Regions from separate parts of the Homo sapiens genome. Here regions 2 and 3 are each linked to region 1. A link means that fine-mapping ties the variant in region 1 to the expression of a gene that starts in the linked region. Tissue or cell type: whole blood. Region 1 holds a variant in brackets; each other region holds the start of a gene. All regions are shown on one strand. Distances are between the middles of the regions.

The links. PIP is the estimated chance that this variant, and not a neighbour inherited with it, causes the effect.
Region 2: KIAA2013 starts here. The variant in region 1 is fine-mapped to the expression of KIAA2013 in whole blood (INTERVAL, PIP above 0.99).
Region 3: PLOD1 starts here. The variant in region 1 is fine-mapped to the expression of PLOD1 in whole blood (INTERVAL, PIP above 0.99). The same link has a PIP of 0.9 or more in neutrophils.

Annotation. Positions count from the first base shown.
Region 1 is chr1:11,987,381-11,990,060 of GRCh38, reverse strand. MFN2 (mitofusin 2) reads right to left here. Exons shown (of 19, transcript NM_014874.4): 3 at 718-896. The coding sequence starts at 892. Among named protein-coding and RNA genes, the nearest start is that of MFN2, 8.3 kb to the right of the region's middle. The variant G/A (reference allele first, on the strand shown) is at 1,523.
Region 2 is chr1:11,924,945-11,927,624 of GRCh38, reverse strand. It overlaps KIAA2013, which reads left to right and starts at 1,198. Exons shown (of 3, transcript NM_138346.3): 1 at 1,198-2,420. The coding sequence starts at 1,388. RefSeq lists enhancers at 979-1,273, 928-1,591, 1,592-2,254 and a silencer at 1,274-1,343.
Region 3 is chr1:11,933,615-11,936,294 of GRCh38, reverse strand. It overlaps PLOD1 (procollagen-lysine,2-oxoglutarate 5-dioxygenase 1), which reads right to left and starts at 1,578. Exons shown (of 19, transcript NM_000302.4): 1 at 1,440-1,578. The coding sequence starts at 1,515. RefSeq lists a silencer at 1,300-1,769 and enhancers at 946-1,869, 1,990-2,039, 1,870-2,680.

The DNA of each region.
Region 1 (2,680 bases):
CACTTTCACAAGTGAGGAAACCAAGGGCAGATAAGACTCAGTTACTGGGTCTCCACAGACAATCTCAGGACCTGGCGCCAAAGTGTCCTTCTAAAGAGGGAGCCTGAGGAAGCCAGTGCTGGAGTTGACACTCAGACGAGCGGGGCCCTGGGAACCAGTCCTTCTCTGCTGATAGACAAGGAACTAGAGGTTGGGCTCAAATTAGTAACTAGTAGAAAAGGCATAGGTGACGTGAGTTTCCTATAGTTCTGTCACCAATCTAAAAATATCAAAGAAAGGGCGCCCTGGTCAGGGATCACTGACACCCAAACAGTGCCTGGTATTAATGGCAGCCAGAACTAGGCAAAGGAAAACACGTGGGCTCCGGAGTTGGAGACACCTGGGTAAAACCCTGATCTATTACTTACAAGGTATCGGACAACTCTCAAACCTCAATTTGCTTGCCTTGTAGATGGGGATAAGATTCACCTATCTTTCATGATTAAATGAAACAAAACATGTGGACTTCTTAAAGTAATTACTAAATGGCAGTTCCCTTGTCTTCCTGGCCTCATCTCCCCAGACTCCAATTCCACATGATTTCAAGAGCAGAGCATTTCTAAGGCTATCTGGTTATGACTTCCCTGGGAGCAGAGATATACCTCCCCACCCGCAAATCCCACTAGCTAAATATCTAAACAGGTAAGAGCGGGCCTGGCTGAGCCGGTGCCCCCTTACCTTCAAGGAAGGTGGCGCTCTCCTGGATGTAGGCCCCCAGCTGCTCAAAAATGCCATTGATCTTCTTCTTGGCAGTGACAAAGTGCTTAAGTGGGGATGCATTCACCTCAGCCATGTGTCTCTTATTTTTCTTGACTGTGACGATAGAGTTGCATCGAGAGAAGAGCAGGGACATTGCGCTGCAAGAGAAGCTAACGTGAGCGAACCCAGCAACACCTACCTCGGGACATCCTGCTAGGGAGATGGCGGAATGCTTTGGGGAGAATCAAGAATATGGGGATCTCAGGTCACTGCAACCTCCAGGACTAGAACAAAGGACGGTGAGATAAGAACAGTGTCTCAGGCTGGGCGCGGTGGCTCACCCCTGTAATCTCAGAACTTTGGGAGGTTGAGGCAGGTGGATCACCTGAGGTCAGGAGTTCAAGACCAGCCTGGCCAACATGGTGAAACCCCCGTCTCTACTAAAAATACAGTAATTAGCCAGACCCAATGGCACACACCTGTAATCCCAGCTACTTGGGAGGCTGAGACAGGAGAATCACTTGAACCTGGGAGATGGAGGCTGCAATGAACCAAGATCATGCCATTGTACTCCAGCCTGGGTGACAGGGCGAGATTTTGTCTCAAAAAATAAAACAAAATTAGCATGACACAGTGGCATGCATCTGCAGTCCTAGCTACTTGGGAGTCTGAGGTGGGAGGGTCACTTGAGCCCAGGAGTTTCGGCTGCAGTGACCTATGATCAGTCCACTGCACTCTAGCCTGGGAGACAGAGCAAGACCACATAAAAACACTATTGGTTAGG[G/A]GCCAGGTTCAGTGGCTCATACCTATAATCCCAGCACTTTGAGAGGCCAAGGCAGGCAGATCACTTGAACTTTGGAGTTCGAGACAAGCCTAGGCAATGTAGGACCCCGTCTCTATTTAAAAAAAAAAAAAAAAACAGCCAGGCATGGTGGGTTATGCCTGTAATCCCAGCACTCTGGGAGGCTGAGGCAAGTGGATCACAAGGTCAGGAGTTCAAGACCAGCCTGGCCAACATGATGAAACCCCGTCTCTACTAAAAATACAAAAAAATATAGCCGGGTGTGGTGGTGGCCGCCTATAATCCCAGCTACTTGGGAGGCTGAGGCAGAGAATTGCTTGAACCTGGGAGGCGGAGGTTGCAGTGAGCCGAGATCGCACCACTGTACTCCAGCCTGGGTGACAGAGCCAGACCAAGTCTCAACAAAGAAAAACACACACACACACACACACACACAAAAACTATTGGTCTATTTTAGTATAGCACAGGTGTGCTACAGAAAATTTGGAAACTGAAGGGGAAAAAAACCCATAACCCCATCATTTTGTGATAAGCAATGTTAACATTTTATTTACTTATTTATTTTTTATTTTGAGACAAGATCTCGCTGTTACCTGGGCTGGAGTGCAGTGGCGCAATCACAGCTCACTGCAGCCTCAACCTCTTGGGTCCAAGCAATCCTCCCACCTCAGCCTCCTGAGTACATGAGACCACAGGCATGCACCACCACGCCCCACTAATTTTTTTAAAATTTTTTGTAGAGACAGGGTCTTCTTATGTTGCCCAGGCTGCTCCCAAACTCTTGGGCTCCAATGATCCTCTCACTTTGGATTCCCAAAGTGTTGGGATTAAAGTGCTGGGATTAAAGGCGTGAGCCACCATGCCCAGCCAACATTTTTTTTTTTTTTTTCTGAGACAGAGTCTTGCTCTATCGCTCAGGCTGGAGTGCTGTGGCATGATCTCGGCTCACTGCAACCACCACCTCCCGAGTTCAAGCTATTCTCCTGCCTCAGCCTCCCAAGCAACTGGGACTACAGGCACTCGCCACCATGCCCGGCTAATTTTTGTATTTTCAGTAGAGGTGGGGTTTCACCATGTTGGCCAGGTAGGTCTTGAACTCCTGACCTCAAATGATCCACCCACCTTGTCCTCCGAAAGTGC
Region 2 (2,680 bases), 62 kb after region 1:
TCCCTCTGTCACCCAGGCTGGAGTGCAGTGGCGCGATCTTGGCTCACTGCAAGCACCGCCTCCCGGGTTCACGCCATTCTCCTGCCTCAGCCTCCCGAGTAGCTGGGACTACAGGCGCCTGCCACCACGCCTGGCTAATTTTTTATATTTTTAGTAGAGACAGGGTTTCACCGTGTTAGCCAGGATGGTCTCGATCTCCTGATCTCGTGATCTGGCGGCCTCGGCCTCCCAAAATGCTGGGATTACAGGCGTGAGCCACCGTGCCCAGCCTAATTTTTGTATTTTTAGTAGAGACAGGTTTTCACCATGTTGGTCAGGCTGGTTTCGAACTCCTGACCTCAAGTGATTTGCCCATCTCAGCCTCCTAAAGTGCTGGAATTACAGACGTGAGCCACCACTCCTGGCCTCTGGTGGTTCCCCTTCCCCTCCTCCTCCCTTTTCCTTTCTTCTTCTTTCTTCCTCTTCTTCTCTCTCCTTTTTTTTTCCTCCACTTTTTCGTATTGTTCCAAGTGTTTTTTTGCAGTGAGGATAGTCTTTTTTTTTTTTTTTTTTTTTGAGACAGAGTCTCACTCTGTCGCCCAGGCTGGAGTGCAGTGGCGTGATCTCGGCTCACTGCAAGCCTGCAACCTCCGCCTCACGGGTTCAAGCAGTTCTCCTACCTCAGCCTCCTGAGGAGCAGGGATTACAGGCATGCGCCACCACGCCCGGCTAGTTTTTGTATTTTTAGTAGAGATGGGGTTTCACCATGTTGGTCAGGCTGGTCTCAAACTGCTGACCTCGTGATCCGCCCGCCTTGGCCTCCCAAAGTGCTGGGATTACAGGCGTGAGCCACCGCGCGCGGCGAGAGGATGGTCATTTTTACAGAAACAAAGTTGTTGTGTGTGTGTGTGTGTATGTTTTTAAATTTTGGGGCTGTTGAATCCATCAGTAGCAAAGGGGCCCAACACGTGTTCGGTTTGGCTGGCTCGATGTTTTTTTCACGAGTGAATTGGATGCTTCCAGTCCTCCCCAGACCCCTGCACTTAACTCCACTGGACTTCACTCTTCCGGCCTGGGAACGAGTGGTCCCGCCCCCGGCAGCTTTTGTCCCGCCCTCGCCGTGGCTCCGCCCCCTTCTCTCCGGCCTGCTCTCTCTCCTCCCTCCGCCCTCCCGTTTTCCATCTGTCGTAAAAGACACGGCGACGCTTGACCGCCGGCGTCGTTTGACGGCTGGAGGCCACCGAGAAGAAGGAGGAAGCAGGGGTGGCGGCTGCTGCGGCGGTTGCGGCGGGGGCCGGGGTGGGCGCCGCGGTCCGGGCCGGGCAGTGAGGCGCGGGCGGCCGGGCCGGTGGGCTGGGCGGCGGGCCCGGCGGCCGCCCTCGCACCCTTGCCCGCGCCTGGCGGCCCGATGTGGCTGCAGCAGCGGCTCAAGGGGCTGCCGGGACTGCTGTCGAGCAGCTGGGCCCGCCGCCTCCTCTGCCTGCTTGGCCTCCTGCTGCTGCTTCTGTGGTTTGGGGGGTCCGGCGCGCGGCGGGCGGCGGGCGGCCTGCACCTGCTGCCCTGGTCCCGCGGTGAGCCGGGCGCCGCCGAGCCGTCTGCCTGCCTGGAGGCGGCCACCCGCGCCTGGCGCGGCCTGCGGGAGCGCGGTGAGGTGGTACCGCTGGGTCCTGGAGTGCCGGCCCTGGTGGCCAACGGCTTCCTGGCCCTGGACGTGGCTGCCAATCGGCTGTGGGTGACTCCCGGGGAGCGGGAGCCCGCCGTGGCGCCGGACTTTGTGCCCTTCGTGCAGCTGCGCCCGCTGAGCGCGCTGGCTGAAGCTGGAGAGGCGGTGCTGCTGCTGCGGGAGGGGCTTCTGCGCCGCGTGCGTTGCCTGCAGCTGGGGTCCCCAGGTCCTGGCCCCGTGGCCGCCGGCCCCGGGCCCGCCTCCGTCTCTGGCCTTGCCGCGGGGTCCGGCCGCGACTGCGTGCTGCTGCAAGAGGACTTTCTGGCGCACAGGGGCCGACCCCACGTCTACCTGCAGCGCATCCAGCTCAACAACCCCACGGAGCGCGTGGCCGCGCTGCAGACTGTGGGGCCCACTGCCGGCCCAGCCCCCAAGGCCTTCACCAGTACCCTGGAGAAGGTCGGAGACCATCAGTTCCTCCTCTACTCAGGCCGGTCCCCGCCTACGCCCACTGGGTTGGTGCACCTGGTGGTGGTGGCCGCCAAGAAGCTGGTGAACCGCCTCCAAGTGGCTCCCAAGACGCAGCTGGATGAGACGGTGCTGTGGGTGGTGCACGTCTCTGGCCCCATTAACCCCCAGGTGCTCAAAAGCAAAGCAGCCAAGGAGCTCAAGGCGCTGCAGGACTTGGCACGGAAGGAAATGCTGGAGCTCTTGGACATGCCAGCGGCGGAGCTGCTTCAAGACCACCAGCTCCTCTGGGCTCAGCTCTTCAGCCCAGGTGAGTCCTGGCCAGCGCTTGGTCCACCCTAGATATGTCCCTCCCAAGTCTGCAGAGGTGACACTGAAGGTGATGGTGGGGTGGTTGAAACTTGGGCTTGGCGTTTCACCAGTGGTTGAATCTGCTCAACTGCTTAGTGTCTGTGCGACCTTTGGATTCGTCGCCTAATCTCTCTGGGCCTGTATTTAATAACAATAACGCCTACCTCAGAAGGTTTTTATGAGACTGTAGTGGACAATTGAGTGTAAAGGTCAATTCTT
Region 3 (2,680 bases), 54 kb after region 1:
TCAGGACAGTGGGGCACACACTGCAATCCAATCTGCCTTGAGGAAGTAGAAAGAGCGCTAGACTGGAGCCCAGCTGACCTCGGACCAACCACCTCTGTCTGGACCACCCTGGACAGTCACTTCACCTGTCTGGGCCTCAGTTTCCTCAAGTATAAACTGCAGAGAGGGCCAGGTGTGGTGGCTCACGCCTGTAATCCCAACACTTTGGGAGACCAAGGTGGGCTGATCACCTGAGGTCAAGAGTTCAAGACCAGCCTGGCCAACATGGTGAAACCCCATCTCCACCAAAAATACAAAAATTAGCTGGGCATGGTGGCACATGTCTGTGATCCCACCTACCTGGGAGGCTGAGGTACAGGAGTCGCTTGAACCGGCCGGGCGCGATGGCTCACGCCTGTAATCCAAACATTTTGGGAGGCTGAGGCCAGCGGATCAAGAGGTCAGAAGTTCAAGACCAGCCTGGCCAGCATGGTGAAACCCCATCTCAACTAAAAATACAAAAATTAGCTAGGCATGGTGGCACGTGCCTGTAATCCCAGCTACTTGGGAGGCCGAGGCAGGAGAAACACTTGAACCTGGGAGGTGGAGGTTGCAGTGAGCTGAGATTGTGCCACTGCATTCCAGCCTGGGCGACAGAGCGAGACTCCATCTCAAAAAAAAAAAAAAGAATTGCTTTTACCTGGGAGGCAGAGGTTGCAGTAAGCCGAGATCGCATACTGCGTTCCAGCCTGGGCGACAGAGCAAGACTCTGTCTCAAAAATAAATAAATAACTAAATAAATAATACATTAAGTAAAATAAAAAAAATAAACTGCAGAGAGGAAGACCACCCTGGCAGGGGCTAAGCAGACCACAGGGGACATGGATGAAAGCACAAACTTATCCACAAAGTGAGCCACACCTTCTACCCCCATTCCTCCCCTGTCCCCCTCAAGACCCCTCATTCCCATGGTCATGAGGCCTCCTGGCTCTGGAACCAGACACCTGGGTGGGTGGGGTAAATCCTGGTTCCAAGGCCCACAAGTTGTATGATCTTGGGCAAGTGAATGAACTCTGGAGCCTCAGTTTGCCCAGCTGGAAAACGGGGATAATAGAAGGAAACACTTACCAGGGTAGCAATCATGCCTAACTGATGCCTGGCCCATAGTGAGCACTGGGCAGAATAGCCATTGTCGGTTATTATTATGAAAACTATTATTATTTGAGCCTTTCTGTGCTGAATGGGACTCAGCTGTCACCCTTTCCTTCCCGAAGCAGGAACCGCAGCCCCAAGAGGGGAAGTGATTTGTTCAAGTCACCAGCGATTAAGTGGACAAGGAGCCGGAACCCAGACTCCCTCTCCAGCCCAGGCCTCCCATTCAGGTCGTTCCCAGGGAGGCAGCCCGACACCAGCCCTCCCGCCCGGATCCGCGCTCCCGCCCCCGGCCTTCGCTCCCTCACCCTCCGGCTTGGCGTCGCCCTTCGCTTCGGCCAGCAGCAGCCAGCCCAGCAGGGCCAGTAGCAGCAGGGGCCGCATGGCCGAGGTATGGGGGACGATCGGCCGACCCGGCGGCGCTCGCAGGGCTGGAAACTTCGCGACGGGGCCGCAGGTCCCGCTGCCACGCACTGGGCCCGCCCCGGGGGCGGCACCACCCCGCCCCTCCACGCCCTCCCCCGCGCCTGCCTAGTGGGGAAGGGTTTTTCTGCAGATATGCCCAAGTCCGGGCCTCTCCTTATTAGGGCAGCTCCCTCCGCCTCTCTGTGCAGCTCCCGGGGCTTCCGTCAGGCCCTGCCGTCTCCCTCCCTTCTCTGGGGGGTTCACTCCGACCAGAAAGAGGGCGGTGAGAGGAGAGAGAGGCCACGATTTCTAGACCCCAGGTTCTGGGCCAAGGCTCCATGGCATCGATAGCCACGAGCCCCTGTTTGCTCGCCTGAAAAGTGGGGCTTATGATAGCGTCTGTTCATTGGGTCTTGCACGGGTTAATGGCGTTACCTGTAGCGCACTTAGAGCAGCCCCAGGTCAAGCCCCAAGGAAGTCAGTTTTCATGATTTCATTAGTCCTTCCCAAAACCCAAGGGGTGAGGGTGGGCACGGATGCGTTCAGAGACACGGACACCCCTACGTGGCCCACCCAGGCACTGGAAATGCAGGAAGCCCGTCTCCACTCTCCCCAAAAGGCAATCACTTGATCTCCCTTTGTGTCCCTGGGAGGCAAACCTCTGAGCCAAGGAAAGTCTTGCTTCTGAGGTTTTTTTGTTTTTTGTTTTTTTTTTTTCATTTTTTTGAGACAAGGTTGCTTTCAGTTGCCCAGGCTGGAGTGCAGTGGCGTGATCACCGCTTGCTGCAGCCTCGACCTCCCGGGCTCAAGCGATCCTCCCATCTCAGCCTCCCAAGTAGGTGGGATCACAGGCCTGAGCCACCATCCCTGGCTAATTTTTCTACCTTTTTTTTGAGACAGAGTTTCACTCTTGTTGCCCAGGCTGGAGTGCAACGGCGAGATCTGGGGTCACGGCAACCTCCGCCTCCCGGGTTCAAGCAATTCTCCTGCCTCAGCCTCCCGAGTAGCTGGGATTACAGGCATGTGCCACCATGCCCAGCTAATTTTGTATTTTTAGTAGAGGTGGGGTTTCTCCATGTTGGTCAGGCTGGTCTTGAACTCCCACCCTCAGATGATCCACCCGCCTTGGCCTCCCAAAGTGCTG